7 linked regions of the Homo sapiens genome follow. The protein of the gene in region 1 purifies or fractionates together with the protein of each later gene. This does not show direct contact. Each region holds a gene or a part of one and is shown in the gene's direction. Other genes may lie near its edges.

The links.
Region 2: the proteins of KDELR2 (region 1) and ACP3 purify together in Homo sapiens (affinity purification with mass spectrometry; one large-scale study listed by BioGRID and IntAct). This does not show direct contact.
Region 3: the proteins of KDELR2 (region 1) and PADI3 purify together in Homo sapiens (affinity purification with mass spectrometry; one large-scale study listed by BioGRID and IntAct). This does not show direct contact.
Region 4: the proteins of KDELR2 (region 1) and EPN1 purify together in Homo sapiens (affinity purification with mass spectrometry; one large-scale study listed by BioGRID and IntAct). This does not show direct contact.
Region 5: the proteins of KDELR2 (region 1) and PPM1E purify together in Homo sapiens (affinity purification with mass spectrometry; one large-scale study listed by BioGRID and IntAct). This does not show direct contact.
Region 6: the proteins of KDELR2 (region 1) and FAM91A1 purify together in Homo sapiens (affinity purification with mass spectrometry; one large-scale study listed by BioGRID and IntAct). This does not show direct contact.
Region 7: the proteins of KDELR2 (region 1) and WDR11 purify together in Homo sapiens (affinity purification with mass spectrometry; one large-scale study listed by BioGRID and IntAct). This does not show direct contact.

What each region holds. Positions count from the first base shown.
Region 1 is NC_000007.14:6,477,653-6,481,152, reverse strand, and holds part of KDELR2 (ER lumen protein-retaining receptor 2), read left to right. Parts: intron 1-3,500. UniProt on the Homo sapiens protein: Membrane receptor that binds the K-D-E-L sequence motif in the C-terminal part of endoplasmic reticulum resident proteins and maintains their localization in that compartment by participating to their vesicle-mediated recycling back from the Golgi.
Region 2 is NC_000003.12:132,341,407-132,344,906, forward strand, and holds part of ACP3 (prostatic acid phosphatase isoform PAP precursor), read left to right. Parts: intron 1-1,145; coding exon 1,146-1,238; intron 1,239-3,500. UniProt on the Homo sapiens protein: A non-specific tyrosine phosphatase that dephosphorylates a diverse number of substrates under acidic conditions (pH 4-6) including alkyl, aryl, and acyl orthophosphate monoesters and phosphorylated proteins.
Region 3 is NC_000001.11:17,247,966-17,251,897, forward strand, and holds the start of PADI3 (protein-arginine deiminase type-3), read left to right. Parts: upstream 1-1,132; 5' UTR 1,133-1,172; coding exon 1,173-1,264; intron 1,265-3,932. UniProt on the Homo sapiens protein: Catalyzes the deimination of arginine residues of proteins.
Region 4 is NC_000019.10:55,692,226-55,695,725, forward strand, and holds part of EPN1 (epsin-1), read left to right. Parts: intron 1-460; coding exon 461-571; intron 572-725; coding exon 726-812; intron 813-2,500; coding exon 2,501-2,758; intron 2,759-2,922; coding exon 2,923-3,131; 3' UTR 3,132-3,500. UniProt on the Homo sapiens protein: Binds to membranes enriched in phosphatidylinositol 4,5-bisphosphate (PtdIns(4,5)P2). Modifies membrane curvature and facilitates the formation of clathrin-coated invaginations. Regulates receptor-mediated endocytosis.
Region 5 is NC_000017.11:58,758,854-58,762,353, forward strand, and holds part of PPM1E (protein phosphatase 1E), read left to right. Parts: intron 1-3,500. UniProt on the Homo sapiens protein: Protein phosphatase that inactivates multifunctional CaM kinases such as CAMK4 and CAMK2. Dephosphorylates and inactivates PAK. May play a role in the inhibition of actin fiber stress breakdown and in morphological changes driven by TNK2/CDC42.
Region 6 is NC_000008.11:123,771,439-123,774,938, forward strand, and holds part of FAM91A1 (protein FAM91A1), read left to right. Parts: intron 1-1,455; exon of another isoform or gene 1,456-1,594; intron 1,595-2,641; coding exon 2,642-2,726; intron 2,727-3,500. UniProt on the Homo sapiens protein: As component of the WDR11 complex acts together with TBC1D23 to facilitate the golgin-mediated capture of vesicles generated using AP-1.
Region 7 is NC_000010.11:120,882,362-120,885,861, forward strand, and holds part of WDR11 (WD repeat-containing protein 11), read left to right. Parts: intron 1-1,418; coding exon 1,419-1,527; intron 1,528-3,452; coding exon 3,453-3,500. UniProt on the Homo sapiens protein: Involved in the Hedgehog (Hh) signaling pathway, is essential for normal ciliogenesis.

The sequences.
Region 1 (3,500 bases):
ATGATCCGCCCGCTTCGGCCTCACAAAGTGCTGGGATTACAGGCGTAAGCCACTGCGCCTGGCCGTTTGTTTTTTACTATTCACTGTTTTCATTTGAGAGATTCAGGAGCATATAAGGAAAATATGAAATACTTCAGCTAAAATGCTAACGAAGGAAGTGAAATAGATGAGTTAACTTCGTGTGTGTGTGTTTGCCAAGTATTCCCGGGACATTATTAAATTGTTCTTGTTCTCAGACTTAGGATGATTTCTGTCCTGGTTTGTGTGTTTTCCTGATTTTAAGTAAATCACCCAGATCATTTATTCAGAATTAAATGCTAACTTTGACAAGCTGCTTTATTTTTCCATACTAAATTATAAAAGTTGTTTAGAGTCTTTTGAAAGAGTAAGAATTTGATATGAGTTTCTCAAATGACTGGAATAGGAGAAACGTGCATCCAGATTGTGTTTCTCATTTTGAAAATACTCATACCAAGGTTCATTTTTAGGATTTTAGCACTGATTTTGAAAATGCTGTTTTAGTCTCGGAACCATGGTGCTTTTTACCCCATAAGGATCAGGGATGAGGCTGACTCGTGTGGAAGCTGGAGATTCTGTGTTCCTCATAGGCAGATTCCAGAACAGCTGCCTTTAAGGACCGTTTTAAAGTGGGGGCAGTGAGTTGATCATGTTTGAGGCTGCATTCTCTTGTGGCTGTATCTGCTGTTGTCATTACAGAAGGGTGTCAACATGGAATGTGAGTTTCTCCTATTCTGAATTATCATTGCAGCTCGATCCACGGTATGCTCAAGTTGTCACTTTATTTTTGTCCTAAACACTGACCTACATAACCTCGGAAGAACAAGCGGTGGTTTTAGATGAAGGGCTTCCTATTCAAATTTTCCTGTAGGCCAATGGTTATTAGTGCTGTATCTACTGTAGTGCTGTGTCTATTAGTAGTGTGTATTACTGTAGCTAGTTATCAGTAGTGTGTATCTACTGTAGCTAGAGGAGTCTTTCTGAGATCCACGACCCCGGGCCTTCCCCCTCTAGTCTGTCTCCTTCCCTCCTTCCCCTGTTGCTTAGATTGTTGTTAGCTGTTATGTAGGTTGTAAACTTTTCATCCTACCAAACCCCATACTGGATCTTATGGTGTCCATACATTTCAGATATGGGACAGTTGATATTTTTGGAGTAATATAGTGGGTAAGATGTGGAGTACTCCAAGAAGCTTTTGCTTCACATATGCAGCTCCCTCTGTAGCTGTTTGGCCTGTGCTCTTTTGAGTGCCAGTCTCTGAGTAATCATTACTCTCATTTATTGACCACCCACTATGTGCAAGGCACTGGCACACAATTCAGAGCAGCAGCTTGTAGCTATTAAAAGTTTTTGTTCTTGGCTGGGCGTGGTGGCTCACGCCTGTAATCCTAGGACTTTGGGAGGCCAAGGCGGGCGGATCTTGAGGGCAGGAGATCCAGACCATCCTGGCTAACACGGTGAAACCCCATCTCTATTAAAAATACAAAAAAATTAGCCGGGCATGGTGGCGGGCGGCTGTAGTCCCAGCTACTTGGGAGGCTGAGGCAGGAGAATGGCATGAACCCGAGAGGTGGAGCTTGCAGCGAGCCGAGACTGTGCACTGCACTCCAACCTGGGTGACAGAGGGAGACTCCGTCTCAAAAAATCAAACAAACAAACAAAAAAAAAGTTTTTGTTCTTGGCCGGTCTTAGTGGCTCATGCCTGTAATTCCAGCACTTTAGGAGGCCAAGGTGGGTGGATCACTTGAGCACAGGAGTTCAAAACCAGCTTGGGCAGCATGGTGAAACCCTGTCTCTACCAAAAATACAAAAGTTAGCCAGCCGTGGTGGTGCGCTGTGGTCCCAGCTACTCAGAAGGCTGAGTGGGGAGGATTACTGGAGCCCAGGAAGTCGAGGTTGCAGCGAGCCGTGATCACACCATTGCACTTCAGCTTGGGTGACAGAGTGAGACTGTCTCAAAAACAAAAGACAAACAAAAGAGAGAAAAGTTTCTATTCTCAAGAAAGCTGCAATGTAGTTGAAATGATAGGAAAATGTACAAAAGATGGCCGAGCACGGTGGCTTACACCTGTAATTCCAGCACTTTGGGAGGCCGAGGTAGGTGGATCACCTGAGTCAGGAGTTCAAGACCAGCTTGGCCAATATGGTGAAACCCATCTCTACTAAAATTACAAAAAAGTTACCCGGGCGTGGTGGCAGGCACCTGTAGTCCCAGCCACTAGGGAGGCTGAGGCAGGAGAATTGCTTGAACCCAGGAGGCAGAGGTTGCAGTGAGCCGAGATCGCACCACTGCACTCCAGCCTGGGCGACAAGAATGAAACTCTTGTCTCAAAAAAATAAAAATAAAAAATAAATATTAAACTTTGCTGATGGACATAGAAGATGACCTGCATGTATGTTCATACTACGGTCCTGGAGAGCACCCAGGAAGGCTGGTGAGGAAGCAAGATGACATCTCTCCAAATTGATTTCTTAATTCAGAATAGTATCAAAGCTAAAGACAATAAACTGAGTGAAATAATCTGTAATATACCTAAGTGACAAAAGGTTAATATCTATAATAAAGTACTCCTACAAATAAAAACCCAGCTGAAAAATGGGCAAAGTTGGCAATTCACTGAAGAATAACGAAAGACCAATGAAGCATGAAAGGATGCTTAGTCTTGCTAGGAGTTAGGAATTTGAATATGAAAATAGCAGTGCGGCCAGGTGTGGTGGCAGCGCTTTGGGAGGTCAAAGCTAAAGGATCACTTGAGGCCAGGAGCTTGAGACCAGCCTGGGCAACATAGTGAAACCCTGTCTCTACAAAAAAAATGAAAAATTAGCTGGGCGTGGTGGCGTGCACCTGTGTCTTAGCTACTCAGGTGGCTAAGGAGGGAGAATCGCTTAAGCCCCAGGCTGCAGCGAGCTGTGATCATGCCATTATACCCTGGGTTGGGCAACTGAGTGAGGTTCTGTCTCAAAAAAAAAACCGGGGGGCGGGCAAGCAAAGAAAAAAGAACAGCAGTACATACCACTGGGTAGGAAAATGTTGGCAAGGATGTGAAGAAAGGGTCTTTGCATTTCGTGTTAGTAGATACGTAAATTGGCATAGCCTTTCTAGGAGAAATTTGACAATATCAAATTTTAAAATGTTCATGTCTTATTTTTGGTTTATGTGTTTTAATTTGCATTATTTGGGGTTACGGATTAAAATTTTTTAATTGATACATTATGATTGGATCTATTTATGGGGTACAGTTTGATGTTTCAATACATGTGTATGTTGTATAGTCTAATCTGGGTAGTTATTTCCGTCACCTCATGTGTTTATCATTTCTTCATTCGAAAACTTCTAACTATTTTGTAATATATAATACCTCATTGGGAAGATTGCTTGAGCCTAGGAGGTCAAGGCTGGAAGCTATGATTGCACCAGTCTACTCCAGCCTGGGCTACAGAGAGAGACCCCATCTCGAAAACAAAACAGAAAACAAAAGACA
Region 2 (3,500 bases), on another chromosome or scaffold:
ATTAATTACAATGATTGATTACATTCATAGATTTACCAATGTTGAACAATCTTTATATTTCTCAAATCAAACCCATTTCCTTTTATGTGACATTGAATTACTTCCTGTTATTTTACTTACACCTTTTGCATTGATATTTACAAGTGGCATTGAACTAATAGTTTTATTTTGGGGGCAATCTTTGTCAGTATCAGTGTTACACTTAATTCATAAGAAGTTTTTGAAAGTTTTCTTTCATCTTCTATGCTCCAGAACAGTTAAAATAGCATTAGAATAATTTACTCTTGAAAAGCTTGGTAGAATTCCTCTATGACAGTCATCTGGCCCTGGAGCTTTTATGTTTGAGAAGATGGCAGTAGGAGCTCTTTAACAATAATTTCTATTATTTTATGAAAATCTATTGAGGTTAATATTGGCAAATTGTAGTTCCCTAGAAATTTCATCCATCAGACAGACAATATCTTCCAAAAAGGCTTCCCAGAAATGGCTGCCAATTTCAGCAGTCAGATAGCTGAACATTGGGTCTCATTATTGCGACATTCCAAGAAACATACAGAACCTAGCGAAAGATTTGCATTCCATCCAAGTTTTATATGTATAGCCAAAGACCAAGCCCTATTTGTGTTGCATGTTCCAGGATGCTTTGGCCTGAAATATGCTTTCCTTTCTCACCTGGGACATATTTACACATGAGTTATACTTTACCCACTTCTAAAAAGAATCTGAGGCAGTACACTTCAATCCAATTCCAGCACGAACCAGGAACATGTGGCAGTCAGCCAGCATCTATCTACATTTTAAATGTAATAATAAGGAATAATCAATTCGTGTTTGTAAAATTCTTTGGAATGACATTATCGTAACCAATATTACTGGTGCATTTTTCTGTGAAGAACAGCGGTTCTCAACAGGGGCGCATTTGCCTCACAAGGAACATTTGGCAATGTCGGGAGATATTCTGGGTTATACAAGTGGGAGATTAGGAATGCTACTGGCATCTAGTGGGCAGAGGCCAGGATACTGTGAAACATCCTATAATGCACAGGAGAGCTCCCTACAACAAACAATTGTCTGGCCCAAAATATCAATAATGCTGAAGCTGAGAAACCTGTGTAGGAATTTTTCTTTCTCTGTTTGTGTTTCAGGATTTTATAGCTACCTTGGGAAAACTTTCAGGATTACATGGCCAGGACCTTTTTGGAATTTGGAGTAAAGTCTACGACCCTTTATATTGTGAGGTAAAAGAAAAAAAAATCACAGGTTAACTTGCAATCTGATTTTATGATTTATGCTTATTTTGAAATAGATGAATATCTTTTCTTTCACTTCTTTATGAATGTATTACTTATACTTCTTTTGACATTGAAACGTAATTCACAACTTCCTTATATTAACTTGAAAATGCTGACTTCTCTTTTCTCTCTATTATTATTTATGTTTTCACCCTTTAGAAAATTACAAGCAAAATTGCTTTTCTTCTATGAGTTTCCACTTTAGTTTTTTCCCCCCTTGGATTCAGTAGGAGCTTATTTATTTTGCAGCCACTCAAAAATGCTGGGTTCCTGTCCTTGGTCTTAATGAAAAAACAATGTTGTTATAAAGAAAGAGGGGAAAATTACCTGATTTCCGAATGTAGAAATAAACAAGCAAAATATAAGCCAGGCTATTTATATTTGCTTAACAAGAAAGAACTTCTTTCTTGCTTTGCGATGCATTTGAAATACCGTTTGTGGCCAGATAAATTACGATTGCTTTTCAAGGTTACATGGTGTTTCTCACTCACCATGCTCCACCTTCTGGCCAAAAGGAGTACTCTCTGTTCCTGTTTTCCCAACTAGCTCACTAAATATGGGGCAAGATTCTGACCACCCACCTAATTCATATTGACTTCTAACTTTGAGGTCATCGTGAGAGTCTGGGGGGCAGCAATTACTTCCGTAGTTCTATCTTAATAACAGATGACACAGTTTGCCTCCATCCATCCTAAAGTTAATTGACCCAATCACATGCTACTTTCCCAGTATTTTCACTTAATCATCAGCAACTATTTCAGTGAAAATTCATTAGCATTGTAAAAGACTCTTCAGTGAAAACAAGAGCCCCCATTTTTGTTCCAGTCATAATTTTTTTTTCTTCCTTACTACAGTTTGATCTGAGCTATTCCAAAATGTGGTCATGTCATGTGATATTTTTTCCAAATCTCTCTCACTTATTTCCTCTGTAGGTCACTCCACTTTGGTCTCCTCTTTCACGAACTCACTTTCTCTCACTCTTAATCCTGCCTTTGAAACTGGGGGACTCCTAATCAACTCTTCCTAACGGGTAATAAATATTGGCACAAGGTCTCACCTGCCCTGCTTGTACTTAACCATTCATTTAACGCATATTTACCAAGTATCCACTGTGTGCAAGGTGCAGGCTTTCCTCAAGAGTCAGTGAACTACAGCCAGGTATGGTGGCTCCTGCCTGTAATCCCAGCACTTCTGGGAGGCTGAGATGGGAGGATCATTTGAGGCTAGAAGTTCAGGATGAGCCTGGGCAGCATAATGAGGCCCTACCTCTACAAAACACTTTTAAAAATTAGCCACGTGTGGCCAGGTGTAGTGGCTCATGCCTATAATCCCAGCACTTTGGGCTAAGGTGGGCGGATTGCCTGAGCTCAGGAGTTCGAGACCAGCCTGGCCAACATGGCGAAATTTCATCTCTACTAAAAATACAAAAATTAGGCGGGTGTGGTGGCGCATGCCTGTAATCCCAGCTACTCGGGAGGCTGAGGCAAGAGAATCGCTTGAACCCAGGAAGTGGAGGTTGCAGTGAGCTGAAATCGTGCCACTGCACTCCAGGCTGGATGACAGAGCAAGATTCTGTCTCAAAAAAAAAAAAAAAAAAAAGTGCCACGTGTGGTGGCATGCACCTATAGTCCCAACTACTCAGGAGGCTGAGGTAGGAGGATTGCTTGAGTCCTGGAGTTTGAGGTTACAGTGAGCTGTGATGGCCACTGCATTCCAGCCTTGGTGACAGAGCAAGACAATGTCTCTGAAAAAAAAAAAAGAAAAAAAAAGTCAGCAAACTAGACCTTGATGGGGGTAGGGGAGAATATATTACTGAAGGCTCCAGAAATATATTGCCTTTCCTAACTGGCCTCTCAGGCAGCCCATTCAGCTTTTAAGGAAATATCATTTAACTCTGTCAGGTTCATAGAAAGATTTCTAACCCTTTCATAAAGGAATGAGGTATTATTTCCCTACTGCACCCTTACTCTGCAAAATATGAGCCACCCACTGATCCAGAGTTAAACCAAAAGCTATGGACTGGGTAGGAATGGGTAAATTCATTTATATAAGCTTTTCTTCTGAAAGTCAATACCACTACTTATCACAATATGAAGTTCTTTTAGAAAGAAATGGCAGGACAAGAAAGTCTGGCCCTACTAGTTCTTGTGAGGTGAAAAAGGATAAGTCAACAAAGAGGACAGTCATATAAATACACATACATTTTTC
Region 3 (3,932 bases), on another chromosome or scaffold:
GTGGATCAAGAGGTCAGGAGATCGAGACCATCCTGACTAACACGGTGAAACCCCGCCTCTATTAAAAATACAAAAAATTAGCCGGGAGCCGTGGCAGGCGCCTGTAGTCCCAGCTACTCGGGAGGCTGAGGCAGGAGAATGGCGTGAACCCGGGAAGTGGAGCTTGCAGTGAGCCGAGATCACGCCACTGCACTCTAGCCTGGGTGACAGAGCGAAACTCTGTCTCAAAAAAAAAAAAAAAAAGAAACTTGCCCAAGGTCGCCCATCCAGGAAGCAGCTGAGGCAGGGCTGAAACCCAGGTCTGGCTCTAAAATCCATTAAAAAAAAAAAGTTGGTGTTTCTCAAAGGGCACCAAAATGCTTTGGGGGTGCTTATTAAAAAATCCAGAGGGCCGGGTGCTGTGGCTCATGCCTGTAATCCCAGCACTTTGGGAGGCCGAGGTAGGTGGATCACCTGAGGTCTGGAGTTCAAGACCAGCCTGACCAACATGGAAAAACCCCGTCTCTACTAAAAATACAAAATTAGCCGGAAGTGGTGGCACACGCCTATAATCCCAGCTACTCGGGAGGCTGAGGCAGGAGAATTGCTTGAACCTGGGAGGCGAAGGTTGCGGTGAGCCGAGATCGCACCATTGCATTCCAGCCTGGGCAACAAGAGTGAAACTCCGTCTCAAAAAAAAAAAAAAAAATCCAGAGGCCAGGCTGCACCCCTAACCTGCTGGATCAGAGTGGACAACAGACCTGGGAATCCGCATTTTCACCAGCTTCCCCAGCAGAGTAAGAAAGCTCCCCATTATAGTCTCTGAAAATGCAGAAAATGGAGGTGAGGAAGCAAGAAGCGTCCGAGATCAATATCATATATCTCTGCACCCCCTCAACAGCACCTGCCCCCAACAGTTCCTGGTGCCTAGCCAGGTACCTGTGGGGACTTGCTTCCCAAGAAATTAACTTCCTGGGTGCCGGGGTCGGGACAACAGGTTCGTATACAAATACTGGGTCCCTTCCAGCCAATCCTGAGCTCTCAGCTCTGGGAAGGGGCTGGGCTTTCATGACTGGAGCCAATGAATTGGCACCCTGGGCTGGAGGGGTGGGGCCAGGGGCTTTTAAACCTCATCCTAAGGGGCCTCAGGGGCAGTGTTGGGGTTGGCGGCCACAGCTAAGTCCAACACCAGCATGTCGCTGCAGAGAATCGTGCGTGTGTCCCTGGAGCATCCCACCAGCGCGGTGTGTGTGGCTGGCGTGGAGACCCTCGTGGACATTTATGGGTAAGAGTCAGAGGCCTAGTGGTTTGCAGGCCCTTGGTGCTGATGCCCTTGGACCTTCCTCCCTGCAGGCTGGGCAGGGCTTCTTCAGGGCCCACTCCCCAGCCTTGGCCTCGGAACAGCAGCCAATCAGGGAAGCTTGGGTCCTCCTCTTGCTCTACTGAGTTTCCTGAAGACCTTAGCCAGGGAATTTGAAGTTTGGGAGGCTGAGCCAGGTAGAAGAGGCTTCAGTGACTGAGCTCCAGACCGGGGGCTTGGAGGGGGCTGGTGCCGCGAAGAGATGGCACTTTTCTATGTCCAAGGGATGCTGCAGGTTGGGCTGAGGATCTGTCTGGGGCACACAAGAATAGGAACAGGCAGATATCCCCAGCCCCATCCTGAGCCTATGAGCCTAGAAACAGAGCATGAATCATTTTTAAAAAATAAGTTAATACATAGCACTTACCATGTGCCAGGCACTATTCTAAGAGCTTCACAAGTCTCTTGAGTTAAGTTTTGAACTTTAATCTTGAATTTAACCCTTACAACAACCCTGTGAGCTAGGCTTATTATTAGCATCATCTCATCAGACAAATGAGAAAACCGAGGCAGAGAGGGCAAGCCATTTGCTCAAGTCACACAGTTACTAAGTGGCAAAGCCAGGGTTTAAACCCGCTTGTGGTCTTACTCAGGAGTCTTATGGTTTTAGCTGCTCTGATACTTGGAAAATAAAGATTTCCAACCTGGTTTCCTCTAGACACTCAATGCCCATGCATTATGCTCCTACTGTGTGCCAGGTCATGCCTTTGAGGCCCATGGTAGAGGGAGGTAAGGCCTTATCTTCTCTCTCTTAGGAAGAAAAGAGGGTTAGGGTAGGGTTTTAAGAGCTGGGCTCTGGGGACCACCAGGGAGCTGGCTTCTTAGGCTTTTGGGGAGAATCCAGGGTCCTGGCTTGGAGGTAATCAGGATACTGGGAGGGGAGGGTGCAGAACTGTGGGACAGCTCTCACCTCTCAAGTCTCCCAGCCCTCTCCTCAGGCCAGGTTTCTCAACCTCAGCACTGCTGTCACGATACCTCTTTGTCATGGGGGCCACCCTGTGCACTGTAGGATGGAGAGCAGCATTCTGGGCCTCTCTTTGCTAGATACCAGCAGCACACTCCCGAGTTGTGACAACCAAAAATGTCCCCAGACATTGCCAAATGTGCCCTGGGGTGGGAAGAAAATAGCCCACCCATTGAGAACGAGTCTCCAAGACTAAGACTCGAAAAATCAGGGCGAACTTAGTCGGGAGCAGCGATGGGGTTGATCCAGGGCATTGGATGAGAGGGGGTGAGGAGCTGGTCATGGGAGGGAACCAAGTCGGGAGCAGAGCCAGCCCAGGAAATAAATCCTGGTATTGGTGGGTGGGCAGTAGGAGGAGGAAGGGGATTCAGTGGTTCTTGAAGGAAGGGGCAGCCACGGAGGCTGTGCCAAGGAGGTAATGAGGAAGGAGGGGTATCTGCCACTTGGCACCACTGCCTGCCTGCCATGGGGTGACTGGGCTGCGTGCCATGGGGTGACTCACCTGCCCCTGCTGCCTCGTGCCCGTTGGGCAGATGTGTCTCCGGTTTGACCTGTCCCAGGAAGCCTGGGCCTGGCTCCTCCCCCGCAGAGCTTCCTTAGAGGATAGAGGATGGATTGGGGCAATAAGAGATAAAGGCCATAGCTTCCTGGAGTCACCTGAGCCACACTGGAGGTTTGCAGAGAAGGCCATCGGTGGGACAGCCACAGGGTGGGGGATGGAAGCTCTGATACCTTCAAATGAGGGATTCTTGGGCCCTGGTGGCCAAACCCCCCAGGGGTGGGAGTGGAGAGCTCCTAGTTCGTTCATTCACATATTCTTCAAGTATTTCTTTTGGGTCTAGTGTGTGTACCATTCAGAGCCTTGAAGGATGAGCACAGGCTCTGGGGACACATACAGGGGAGAACAAGCAGCTCCTCCTCTCTGAGAAGCCAGCAGAGGCTGGACAACCTTCTTACAAGGGTGCCACAGAAAGGACTCCTTTCTGGGAAGGGGAGCAGGACTGAGTTAGTTCTGAGGTCCCTCCCGGCTTGGAGGTGCCATGATGTAACAATCCTGGGTCCTCAGCCTGCGGGCCAACAAGAGAAAGGGCAGTAGGTGTTGTGGCTCAGTCCTGGCTCTGCAACTTCCCAGCTCTCTGACCGTGGGAAACTCCTTTAACTTCTCTGAGTCTCTGTTTCCTCACCTGTTGCCTGGGGATGATAATAATATCAGCAATGGCACTGAATGCCACTCCCCAGCAGTGCCTGTAAGCGCTTTCCATATGTTAACTAATTCTCACAAAATTCTCAAGTGGGCACTGTCATCATCGTCATTTTATAGATAAGAAAACAAAGGCACAGAGAGGTTAAACAACTTGTCCAAGGTCACATGGCCAGTGAGTGGCAGAGCCAGGATGTAACCCAGTTTGGCCTTACTTCAAAGGGCAGTTAGGGGCATTGAATGAGATTGTGTGTGCAAAGCATGTAACTAATACTGATTTGTGGTGAACATTCAGTTATGTTAACTGTCACCATTATCATCATCATCAGTTTAAGGCTTTGTCCTGGGCCTGTGGACAGCCTCAAGCATCCCCAAACCTGCCATATGCAGGATGTCTGGGGAACAGTCTCTGGACCGTATTGGGAGAA
Region 4 (3,500 bases), on another chromosome or scaffold:
GGGTGTGTGAGATTGTGCCTTGGAGGACATGGGGGGTGTGCTGTGGGGAGGGGATGGCAGCTCAGCCGAGGGGCAGAGAGGCTCTGGCCAAGGCAGAGCGTGTGTGACGTAGGCATCTGGGGAGGGCGGTGGGTGGAGCTGGGAGGTGCAGGTGGAGAAGGGGCCTGACACCCAGCTGGACAGGGGAGGGGTGGCCGAGCCGTGGGAGCTGAGGGAGGGCTGGGCAGGTCTGGCAGAGGCTGCGGGGAAGCCCCTCACCCCAGCTGGGGTCCCAGGGGCAGAGCCTGGCAGAGAAGCCCAGTTGGAATTTGAGTGTGTGTGCGGGAGGCCGGGTGGGGTGGGTTTCTGGGGGGCAGGGGGGCTTTTGTGTGAACAGCCACAGATTTGGAGGCAATGGTCCTCCCTAGCCATCTGGGCAGTCAAGGTTGCCAGCCCCTCATGCTCTTCTGTCCTCACCCAGGTGGGGTCCCGGTCAGTGGGCCCTCAGCCTCCGATCCCTGGACACCGGCCCCGGCCTTCTCAGATCCCTGGGGAGGGTCACCTGCCAAGCCCAGCACCAATGGCACAACAGGTACTGGAATGGGGGTGGGAATGGAGCCCCGGGTGGGAGTGAGTGGGAGAAGTTAGTGTTGAGTGTCCTAAGGGAGGGGTGGACGCCTGGACTGGAGGTGGGGGCTGAGGCGGGGCCCCAGGGAGGGGCTGAGCAGAACATCCTGACCCCACAGCAGCCGGGGGATTCGACACGGAGCCCGACGAGTTCTCTGACTTTGACCGACTCCGCACGGCACTGCCGACCTCCGGGAGCAGCGCAGGTGAGCCCCTGCCCTCCCCTGCCCAGTGGCGAGAGGGAGCCTCCCCTAGCTCTTCGGGAGCCCCGTCCCTTGCTGTCTTTGTCCCACTCCAGGCAGGGCCGGCTGGACTTAGGGATGAAAAGTTCAGTTGGGTAGAGTGGGCCAGAACCATCCACCTGTCTTTAAAAGAAGTGTGCATCTTTATTTTAGAGAAATTGCAGACTTAGAGAAAAACTGAGAATTGTTCTCAAGGTTTCCCACCCGAATGTTGACCTCTGACCCGTCTCTGCCTCCACGTTGCTTGAGTGCCTTGCAAACTCTCCAGGTGTCTCAAAGAACACGGACTGTCTTGTCCTGTGCAGTGAGCTGCGTGGACAGGGGTTTGGAAGGCAGCCGAGGCTCCCCTTCCGGGTCGCCACTCACCTGCTGGTGGCTCCTGGGCTGGCCAGGGTGCGTCCTCATGGGTGCTGCCTTTAGCTGCCCTGGCTCCTTGGGGTTTTCAGCTGGCGTAAGCTGGCGCCCATCGCCGGTGACGGGCCCATCTGCTGAGTCCTGAGTGGCTCTTCGTCAGGAGTGCCCGAGGTCATAGTGGGCCACTGGTGCTTCGCCGCGGCCCTCAGCTGATACCTGTCTGTCCCATGATGAGTCAGGTCAGCCTTGATCTCTTATTTTTATTTTAAGTGAGCTGTTAGTGAAGAGCAGGTTGTGGTACAGAAACCTGTTTCCACTGATGAAAGGCTGGCAGCTTGCAGGGAGTGAGCTGCACCCACGCTTCCCTCCTCTCATTATCTAGGTTAACGTAGAGCAACCTTCCAGCATGCAGTTTTCCTTCTTTTAGGCCCTTTTTTGTCCCATACAAATGTGTGCATTTTTTCAACATTAGGTAGAATTCTTAAATCTATTTAAAAGGAAAATCAGGCCAGGCGCAATGGCTCACGCCTGTAATCCCAGCACTTTGGAAGCTCGAGGTGGGTGGATCACCTGAGGTCGGGAGTTCAAGACCAGCCTGACCACCATGGCCAAAACTCCGTCTCTACTAAAAACACAAAATTATTACCCAGGCATGGTGGCGCACGCCTGTAATCCCAGCTACTTGGGAGGCTGAGGCAGGAGAATCGCTTGAACCCAGGAGGTGGAGGTTGCAGTGAGCTGAGGTTGCGCCATTGCGCTCCAACTGGGGAAACGAGCGACACTCCGTCTCAGAAAAAAAAAAAAAAAAAAAAAAAACAGAAAATCAGACCTCTAGCCAACAGATGTCTTCACGCTGGCCCGGAACACGTGTCTGTGCTGTCTGTCCACTTGGAAGCTCCCTCTGGGGCTGTGTACTCAAGGAGCGTCTGAGGGCAGGCTCCTCTGAGCCTGGAGGCACCTGTGAACACGCCCCCGCTGCCTTCCCCCGCGGGCCTATAGACCCTGGACGGCCCCACCCTGAAGCAGTTGCTGCCCTCTGGTTGTCAGAGGGTGACACCTGCTTCTGTCATCCCTCTTGTGTTTGCTCACTGGAATCAGACCCACCTTATGGGAATCTGGGCTGACGTGAGGTTTTGGCCTGGGCAAGCGATGCTTCCGCTCTGCACCTCAGTTCCTCCTTCCCGAGGCCTCTGGGCACCGGGCTCTTTGAAGCGCCCCCTATGATGGCCTATACTGCTCCCGGGTTGGAGCCTCACTGCTGTCTGCCCTGTCTGAGCCCCTCTCCCGGATCCTTCCAGGAGAGCTGGAGCTGCTGGCAGGAGAGGTGCCGGCCCGAAGCCCTGGGGCGTTTGACATGAGTGGGGTCAGGGGATCTCTGGCTGAGGCTGTGGGCAGCCCCCCACCTGCAGCCACACCAACTCCCACGCCCCCCACCCGGAAGACGCCGGAGTCATTCCTGGGGCCCAATGCAGCCCTCGTCGACCTGGACTCGCTGGTGAGCCGGCCGGGCCCCACGCCGCCTGGAGCCAAGGCCTCCAACCCCTTCCTGCCAGGCGGTGAGTGTGGGCCCATCACCTGCTCAAGTCCTTCCTGTGGGTTCCACCAGAGGAGGTGCCTCACGGGGCAGGGACACTTCGCCCTTTGCCTGCACATGCTGGATGGACACAGGTGGGCTGCGCCACTGACTCCACTCCGTGTCTCTGGTTTACTCTTCCTGCAGGAGGCCCAGCCACTGGCCCTTCCGTCACCAACCCCTTCCAGCCCGCGCCTCCCGCGACGCTCACCCTGAACCAGCTCCGTCTCAGTCCTGTGCCTCCCGTCCCTGGAGCGCCACCCACGTACATCTCTCCCCTTGGCGGGGGCCCTGGCCTGCCCCCCATGATGCCCCCGGGCCCCCCGGCCCCCAACACTAATCCCTTCCTCCTATAATCCAGGGCGGAAGGGGGCCTGGCTCCATCCGGCTGCCCCATTCCGGCTCCCTGGGAGATCAGTGTTGTGAGTGCATGTGAAATGGGGGATCCCCACCCCCAGTGCCCTTCCCCTTCCTGGGGCCCACTCACACTACACCCTCTTCCTTTCCCACCCCACCTCCCCGGAGAGAAACTGGACATGGGGCCTGGGGAGGGGAGCTGGCCAGAGGAGGACCCCTTTCCCGTGGCATTAGAAGGGGGAGGGGTGGCTGGGGCCCCCACCCATTCCCCCTCCCTCCAAACTCCCAACCCCCAGTCAGTGTTTGAGCCTCCTCGTTCCCCTCACGCACCCGCTCACGCACCCTCGGTGAATCCTTGGTGATGATTT
Region 5 (3,500 bases), on another chromosome or scaffold:
CGGAACACCTGTTTGAGACCATCTTGTCCAACATGGCAAAACCCCGTCTCTACTAAAAACACAATAATTAGCCGGGCATGGTGGTGCATGCCTGTAATCCCAGCTACTCAAAAGGCTGAGCCACAAGAATCGCTTGAACCCAGGAGGCGGAGGTTGCAGTGAGCCAAGATCCTACTGCTGTCCATTCCAGCCTGGGTGACAGAACAAGACCTTGTCCGCCCACCTTCCACTCCCCCACCAAAATAAAACAAAAAATAAAAACACACTTAGCTGGGCATGGTGGTGTGAACCTGTAGTCCCAGCTACTTGGGAGGCTGAAGTGGGAGGCTTTCCTGAGCACAGGAGGCCGAGGCTGCAGTGAGCCACTGTACTCCAGCCTGAGTGACAGTGAGACGTTGTCTCAAAAAAAAAAGTTACCTACGTTTTACTCCTTTCTCTAAGTTTAAATCCCCCAAGAGATTAAAATAATTTCAATGACAATCTGAGAATTTCTGAGGTTAAGGAGAGGCTGCCCTTTGAAAAGGTGGAGGTGAGAGATTTTATAACTGAGATAATTTGTAAATAAGGGTATAACTGATCTTACAGGAGATGTGAATATAAGGCTATCTGTGTAGTTTATATGGGTCAATATTTTGTATTTAATTTCTCTATACACTACTAGAGATAACATATATTTGTTTTAATCCAGAAGAAGCAAATATTCTGAAGTCTTTTTTCTTTCCATTTTTTACCAGTAGACTATTAAACGAAGATAAAGTCATTATTAGAGCTATATTGTCATCATATTTTCAGAACAGTTGTTTCCTCAGTTATTCATTTAGTCTGGGTTGGACTTCCCAAGGGGGAAACCAATATCCCAAGAGTCTGGCACAGTTAAGTAGTTCCAGATGGCTTGCAGTAATAATGAGGGTGGACACTTTAAAAATGGCTTGGAAAAGAAAATCGCTGGTTATAGACACTAATAATTCAGTTACATTGAATTGTGTGAATCATTAATGACTTTGGATTAGGTCAGAAAATCATTAAACTTTATCTAATTTACAAATATATAAATGGAAAAATATATGGATTCATGTTATATAATACCAATTTTTAAGTTGCACATTTTTTTCTCATTCAAAAATAATAAACGTTCACATTTATTAAATAAAGAAGTGGAGAACATTCACATAAGCAAAAAGAGGAAAAATACCATTCATTGTTAATCATGCTTTCCAGGTTTTTCTCCTGCTTCTCAGGCTATCCCACTTCTTCTCTGTGAGCTTTTAATATTCTGCCTACCCCTTTAATATTGGTGTTCTGTCCTTGACCTTCTTTTGTCTGGTTGACTTATTTGTCCCTAGTCAATATCAATCTGTCACATGACTTCAGTTATTGTAGTTATGCTAAAGGCTCCCAACTCTATCTCCATCCTTTCTTTGACTGCTAGAACAGCTTTACCTAGATGTCAAAATTTCCTCAGATTAAACTGTCTAAAACAGAATTCAGTCCTCCAACCCTCTTTACGGCCCCCAAAACAAACAAAACCAAAACCTGATACTCTTTCTGGTGGGTCCATCCCTGACTTCTCCTTTCCCTGACTTCTCCTTTCACCTCTCACATTCAGTCACATCTTGTTAATTCTACCTCGTAAATACCTCTTAAATATGTCTTTCTTCATTCCCACTGTCATTGTCATCTCTTGCCAGTCTTACCCTTCTGCAATATATTTTCCCCAGTGTAGCCAAAATGTTTAATTGTCACACTGCTTAAACATTTTTACCCTTTACCCAGAGTTAGCCAAACTCTAAGGTTAAGGGCACAGTCTTCTACTCTGCCAAGTCTGCTCAAGACTTCTGATCCTATTGTAAGGGGTTAGGGTGCAACTACAAATTTCAAATGAAGATGCTATGCAAAACCTCACTTCTAACATCAACTGCAAGTTTGGGGGTTTCCCCAAACCACCCTCAGATTCAGTAATGCACTAGAAAAACTCATAGAACTCACTGAAAGCTATTATACTTAGAGATACAGTTCATTACAAAGACAAGCTACAAATTAGTCAAAGGAAGAGAGATGCCTAGGGTATAGTCTAAGAGGGTTGCAGATATGAAACTTCCATTGTTCTCAGGGAATATACCTTCCATACCCTCCCAGCATGAATGTGTGGATGTATGGAAATACACACAAGGTATTGCCCACCCAAGAAGTTCACCTAAACTTTAGTGTGTCTGGAGTTTGTGTTTTGTTTTTTAAAGAGATGGGGTCTCACTATATTCCCTACGCTGGATTCAAACTCCTGGCTCAAATGATCTTCTTACCTCAGCAGAGTTTTCATTGAGATTTATTGATTGTTTGCATGGTTGAACTCAGTTTCCAGTCTCCCCTCTCCAGAGGTTAGGCTGATACTATGTGGTTCAAGGGACCCATCATGAATAGTAAGAATACTCATATTACTCCAGAAATTCCAGGGGCTTAGAGGTTACCTCCCAGGAGCTGGGGGCAACATCTGGACCTCTCTTTGGACAAGTTTTTTACTCCACATCCTTCATCACCTATCTCTCTTTTGCCCTCTAGATAAAATCCAAAGGTAAGGGCTTATAATCTTACTTCATTAGTTTTATTTCTGGAATCACTATCCACCCACTTCATCCCAGCTCTACCCCTCCAGAAACTACACTTCAGCTATATTAAACTAATGTATTTCTTTGAAGGTATTGTGTTATCTTTTGCCTCTGCACCTTTGCACATAGTATATTTTTCCCTCTGCTTGGAATACTATGTTCCCCCAATAGCCACTCCCAACACAATCCAATTTCTTACCCGTTTTTTAGTTCTCTGTTTAACACCTCTTCCTTGAGGAAGCCTTTGCTTACCGTCCTCACACTCATCATGAGTTAGGGGTCCCTTCTACGTTCCTTTCCATAATACCCAATGCCATTCCTCTTGTAAGTACTTGGTTTAATTTATTATTTTTTGTCAGCAAATATTTATATCTCCGTCACTAGACCAGAGGTCTCCAAAGTCAATTGCACCTAAAATACTTCATTTCGGCAAAGGAAGAAAACATTATCATCTGTTTATTTGTGTATAACATACGAAATTAAGTGCTATAAATATTTGACATGTTTATTGAGATTGGCAACTTGTTCTGTATGACGACTGATTTCATGTGAAGCATGGTAAGTGTGGTATTCTGAGGGAGTGCAAATTCCACAGCTTATGGGGGTTGACCGTGGCATCCTTTCTCCAATTTTTAGGCCATTACAAACTATTACAGTTTATCTGTGCCTGAGTAAATAGATTTATGGATTATATTTCCTGGTTTTAACAAAATTAGCCCTCATGAAATGGAAAATTGGCTTTAAAAGTTCCTGTGAAGATGGCTGGGCTTGGTGGCTCATTCCTGTAATCCCAACACTTTGGGAGGCTGAGGCAGGCAGATTGCTTGAGTCTTGGAGTTCGAGACCAGACTGGGCAACATGGCAAGGCCCCGTCTCTACAAAACTTAGTTCAGCTAC
Region 6 (3,500 bases), on another chromosome or scaffold:
CATTTTCCAGTTCTGTAAGCTAGGGGCAGGTGATTTAGATTTTTAAAAAATGTATTTTAAGCTAATTCATTTTTATGTGGATGAGAGGACATTTAAAAAAATGTGGTATGGGTCATGATAGACTTTTAAAAAATATATAAAAAATTGTGGATGGGGCCATTATTTCAGGATTTTTCTGTAGTTTACCACTATCTTGTATTCTTTATCCAAAATAATTAATAGCCCTTTTATTTTGAGGGAAATCTTATGATAAGTTTCTGTATCATCCAAGAAGGGTCAATTTAAAAAATTTTTTGATGCGGCACAGGGGTGTACTTGGGGATGTATATGCTGGGATTGGAGTCTGTAGGAGCAAAGATTTCAGAAAATCTTTGTGTTTTTAGCATAATCTGTGATGGGTGCTTTATAGCTAGTGTCTTATTCTTACATCGCCATTTGATCTGATGTAGTTCCTTTTATATGCAGCCCAACTTCATTTGTCAGACCTGGTCAGTATTTCTGCAGGGCTAGAGTTGACTCGGGGTAAAATTACTTTTTTTTTCTTCTTTTTAAAAAGTCACCTTCTCTAGTGGCAACAGTGTTTTAAAATTTGAATGGTGGGAGATGTGGGGTAGGAGTAGGAGGGGAGCCCAGGGAGCCCAAGAATCTCAGAATGAAGCAATTTATATTACATACTTGGCCAGTGAAGAATAAAGCCAACTTTTAATGTGGGTTTTAGAAATTTGTGTTCACTCGTGTATTGATTGATAGGTTCAGGACCAGTTATTACTTAATGCTGAGAGCCAAAGCTTACAAATTTCATAGGTAGTGTATTAAGAGACTTATTTTGAAACAGAAGAGCAAAACCTCAAGCTAGATTTTAGCAAAATTGTGTGCTTGTTTGAGTATGCATGTGTGTGTATTTGTGTTCCCTGAGAAAGAGACTTTTATTTAGCAGTAGAGACAGAGAAAACCTTTAAAAGTGTGCTATTTTGAATCCTCTAAATATTGTCAGTACAACGACCCTGGCATTGATGCTACGAAGAGGATGGTAGAGTAGTTTCTCTACAATGAGATCTACTCTTAACCCCTTATAATGTTAAGACAGATGAAAGTAAGATAAGCACATACATTCTGGTTCTACCGTGGGTTCTGGCTTAGCCTGTGATAAACTAAGCTAAATGCAGGAAGAAAGCTCACCCTTGAACAACATGGGTTTAGGGGTGCTGCACCCCTGTGCAGTTGAAAATCCATGTATAACTTTTGACTTCCCCAGAAGTTAACTACTAATAGCCTATAACTGTTGACTTCCCCGGAAGTTAACTACTAATAGCCTATAACTGTTGACTGGAAGCCTCGGCCATAACACAGTTGATGAACACATATTTTGTATGTTATATATATTGTTAATATATGCTGTACTACAATAAGCTAGAGAAAAGAAAATGCTATTATGAAAATCATAATATTTTCTAGTCATTAAGTGGAGATGGCTCATCACAGAGGTCTTCATCCTTCTCTTCACATCAAGTAGGCTGAGGAGGAGGAGGAGGAGGAAATACAGGAAGTGTTGGTCTTGCTGTTCAGGGTGGCAGAGGAGGAAGAAAATCCCAGTGTAAGTGGACCTATGCAGTTCAAACCCGTGTTGTCCAAGGGCCAACCGCACATAATTGTACAGTTAAAATGGGACACATCATGTTCTATTTTTCTTAAAATATTACCTACCAATGGGTCCAGTTATGGGTCAGTTTACTTAGATGTGAGTTTCATCTGTCTTATTGTGAAGATTGCCTTAAGTGAAAGATGTAGGGACCTGTCTTTGGTTTTGGCTTACCTATGAGTAAGAAATACGATGAACTAAATCCTCTGATCTTTCTGTCATTACTTTCCTAAGATGTCTAATTTCACTTTATAGTGTGTTGGAAAGACCATACCTAGAAATTAGGAGGAGGATAGCAGTCATATATTAAATTAAGTTTATGGTCTCCCAGTGAATATAATGTTAACTATAATCAGGCAAACGTTGTTTGCTTTCAGGAACACTGCAACAAAACACTAAGTGCATACTAGAAAGACTTTAGCTTATTAAAAATGGCTCCGAATTCTAAAATTGTCTAAATGCCTTCTAATGAGGCCACAGGAGATTGCATTTTTAAGAAACAATCTTACGTACATTTAAATGTAAATTTTCCAGAAATCCTAATCTTTAATAATTATAACCCTCAGCTACAATTATCAAAGAGGGATGTATCTGTCCTTAGTTGCCATTCTTAAATTTAAATAAATGTAGGGGCAGGAAACCATCTATCCAACCACTTAATATAGCAGTCAGGAAGGAAATCTTTATAAGCAGAACTTAGTTCTTTGTTAACCAAAGTGAAGTTACACTCACCTACCGGTTTTTATTTGATATTAAATACTTCGGATAATTTTAGTAAACTCTTTTAGAAAGGCAGACTGAAAATACATAGAATTTTTGCTCTGAATACTGTAGCAGGAAAGTTAGTATAATAACATTTAAGAAAATATTTTTTATTTAATTCTGCAAATTAGAGATGCCAGGATAAAAATGGGGGTCGTGGTTTTAAAGTGTGTTATGGGAAAAAATAGTACTATTGTTCAGTTTGGAAGTTGTTTAAAATCTTTTTGAAATTTCTCCTAGAGTCTTGGAAATTCACAGAGAGAATATGAAAAGCAGGTTGTCCTGTACAGTATCCGCAATCAGTTACGATATAGAAATAACTTAGGTAAGTAGAGCCATGTTTATATTGGGGTGGAACTGACCACTACTCTTTCACATTCGTAAATCTTTCTTTTCAATACATATTTCATAGTACTGAGATTATTCCATGTACAGACTTTAAGAAACTCTACACTGATCCATTCCACCTAACAACAATTTGTATTAGCAAGTAGATTTTTCATTCTAATTCTGATAAAAATTATTTTTAGAGTACTGTTTATGGACTCATTTTATCTATAAAATAATCTTAATTCAAATGTCCTCTTTTTGCCTGAGGTAAGAAAATATGCCATAAAAGAAAAAGTATATTAGTTCTTAGTAATTTTTGACTTTGGGTTGTCTCCATAAATTTTCCAAATAATATGAAAAACTTTATAATAATTGGGACACATTTTAAACATAGTTCATTCCATGATTTTTTTTTCTTCTTTCTAAAAAAAAATTTGTTTATTTATCAGATTATTTTGGTTAGTCTATTCTGTTGCCCTGGTAGTCTTTCACTCCTGTTTGTTACTCTTATTTTAAGCATAATATTTCTGACATTGTTTTTCTTCATGAACATTTTCCATGAAAGTCAGAGGGCTTTTTACATTTAAAAACTAAAAAAGCAGCAAATAATTTTTAAAAATAGACTTGACTTCATTGAAAACGAGCATTCAGTTTGGCTCTCTTGTAAGGTAGTAGAATACAATTCAATAAAGCTCTGTTTTGTACCTTTTTGGGGGGCATGCTGGTAGTTCCATGCTTGTTTTCTCATTTGGCAAGAATTATTCTCTAC
Region 7 (3,500 bases), on another chromosome or scaffold:
TTTTGGTATCAGGGTAATACTGACCTTGCAGAACGTGTTGTAAAGTATTCTCTCTCCTTTTTTTTTGAATGAGTTTGTGTAGAATTGATATTATTCTTACTAAATGGGAAAAATTTATTAGGAAACCCATCTGAACCTAAAATTTTCTTTGTGGCAAAGTTTTTAAATACAAATTCAGTTTTGTTTTTTTTTTTCATAAATATAGGACTATTTAGATTCTCTTTTTTTGAGCTTTGGTAATTGGTGTCTTCCAAGTAATCTGTCCATTTTGTTGAAGTTGCTGAGTTTATTAATTTATTGAAATAAGCTTGTTCATCATGGATCTATGATCAGTGATTATCTTTCCCACTCCTAATATCAGTAAATTATATCAACCAATTTTATTTATTGATCTTTTCCAAGAAACTACTTTTGATTCATTTGATTCTTCTCTATGATTTTTCCATTTTCAATTTCATTGTCTGTCATGCTTATCTTTTGTTCTTCTGCTTACTTTTTAAATATGCTCTCCTTTTTTTACATAGTTTTCTAAAATAGAAACTTAGATAATTGAATTAAGTTGATTCTCTAAAATGTAATGTAAACAGTTAATGCTATATGAGCACCAGTTTTCCTGTATCCTACAATTTTTGTTATGGTTATATGTTTTCATTTTAATTCACATTATAATCTTTAAAAATTTCCATGGGGTGTTATTCAGAGGTATATTTTTTAACTTCAAACTATTTGGGTGTTTTGCCAGGTATCTTTCTGTAAATTTCTACTTTCTGTTGGGGTCACACATGGTCCTGAGTGGAAGAATCTCAGTCCTTTGATACAGGGAGTACAGGGATCTTCCTACTCTGTCACATTTCCTCTATGTCAGCCATCATTTGCTGATAATATTTTAGTTCCTCATAATGCTTATTGAGTAATCAGTGCTCAAATTATATTTGTTGAATTGCACTCGTTGATGTCATTCAGTACTTCTTTCAGGCTTAACAGAAAGTGAATAAAGTGGCATTTGTTGAATACCAACTGTAGTAGAATGATAGAAACTTTACATACTTTTTCATTGAATGTTTACCATAATCTGTATATCAATTAATTGAGGTACATGATGAGATTCTCCTGTCATGTGTGAGAAGTTGAGCCTCAGGAGGGTTAACATAAGTTGTGGCATCAGGGTTTGAATCTATGCCACTCTTTCTTCCAAGTTGGACTCCTTGCCTAATTGTGTGAGACTGTATGTTCTCTTACAGGTCACTTAGAGCTTTACCTTCTTATGACTGTTAATCATGGTGCTAAATGGTAGTTTAAATTGTCTATATTTAGAATGCGTCAGCTGAGTTTTTCAATTTACTGAACTTTTTATTTGCTCTAATTCATGGTGAAATTTTTGCAAAAAGGGGCTTATTTAGTAATTTTGTTTATTTTAGGCAGTATTTGGCAGTCGTATTCAGAGATAAACCCCTGGAGCTATGGGATGTTAGGACTTGTACCCTTCTTAGAGAGATGTCCAAAAACTTCCCTACAATAACTGCTTTGGTAAGTTACAATTTAAGAATTTAATAGCTTATTTAGGTATATATGTATGTGGTGAATGTTTTGCTTAAGCTTGAATCAAAATCATTACTGCCAATGTCATTTTTTTGGTTAAAAATGTGTGTTCAGAGAAGATGATCTAAATAAATGGAGATAATTCTTATTTTCTTGGATAAATCAACCTAATATCATATTAGTGCAATTCCAATTCAAGTTTCATTTGGATATTTTGAGGAATATGGTAAACATATTCAAAAATGTTTATGAAAGAATAAAGGTCCTAAATAGCTAAGTCATCCTTGAATAAAGAGGAGTAAATGTGGGAGGTGTGGGTGGGGTTGGCCCTTCCTACCTGATATTAGTACATCTTACAAAACCATGGAAATAAAATCAGTATTGTATTGGCACAAGAATAGAAAGTGAGTCAACCTAATAAAGAGCTCAGGAACAGACCCATGAATATTTGGGGACTTAATATACAGTAAAGTAGCACAAATCAAAGAGGATGGACAGACTGTGTAGTAGACGGTGTTGGGAAAACTGTCTCACTTTATGGAGAAAAATACTTGATCTCTACTTAATACCGTATAGAGAAGTGAGTGTCACAGGACTAAAGACCTAAATGTAAAAATGTAAAGCTATAAAATTGAATATAACAAAATACAAAATATTGCTGTGACCTAGAGGCAGGAGGAGACATCAGAAGCTCAAACCAAAAGGCAAAAAAAAAAAAGAAACAATGCATTTAATTAATCAAGATTAATGCTTTTTGTTTGATGAAGATGTCAAAGTTAAATACAGAAGACATTTTGGGAAAACAAATTTTCCAGTGTCTAAATTTAACTAGAAACTCCTGCAAGTCAACAGTGAAAAAAAGCGGGAACCCTAGTGAGAAAATGAACAAAGTCTGTGAAGAGCTAATGAGAGGCAGAGAAACCTAAAAGGCCAACAAGCCATATAAAGGAATGTTCAAACTCATCAGTTTTCAGAGATGTTCAAACCATGATATGGATCTACCGTTTAGACTAACAAAAACTGGACAGCCATATAGTGTTAAGTACGGGTGGAACATAGGGTATGGGAATCCTTGTGCATTGCTGGTAGGAATGTAGACCAATGCAGCCATTCTGTAAAGCACGCTGGCAGCACTTGGGCAAACACAGACATCTTCTGTGTCCGCTGAGCTCTTGGTCGTAAATGAACTTTTGCAAGGATATTGACTGGTGTGTTTTGTCATGATGTGAGTTTGGAGACCATCTGTGTGTTTTTACTGAGAGAGGAGACAGATTAACAATTGGCTGATGCACCCATGGAGTATTACGTAGCATGCAGAAACAGGAGGAAGAGGACTTAAATACAGTGGAAAGAGTAAGAAACAGGATGAAGTATATATATATATATACACACACACACACACACACACACATATAAACACAATACTATTTAGGTAAATTAGATAATAACTACATGTTAAGAACTTATACATATGCGAGGATATTGGACTAAAAGGCTTTACAATAGGTGGAATATAAAAGAATATATAAATAAAACAAGTGATTTTGGAGGAATCTATGGATGATAAAGGACCCTGGTTCGAGAACTGTGATTGTCTTATCGTGTGCACATAAGAGATGGGGGAGGAGACGAGGAATAGGCAATACTATCATTGAATTCATTATTTTCATTTTGTAAGTATTTTATAAAAACATCAAAAGGTCAGACCTTTTGGAAGTTTGCCATAAAAGCTCCAATTAAAATGCATTCATTTAGCCTTTCTCTAAGTAGGTAAAATCTAAAGAACAAATGTGGATTCATGTGTAGTAATAATAAATGATACTGGGCAGTGGTGTGTGTGCCCAGCTCTTCTGGACGATTCTTTGACAGAAGGAAACCTAGCACTTCTAGGTTTGTCTGCATTTGCTTTACAGGAGTGGTCACCATCTCACAACTTGAAGAGCCTGAGAAAGAAGCAACTT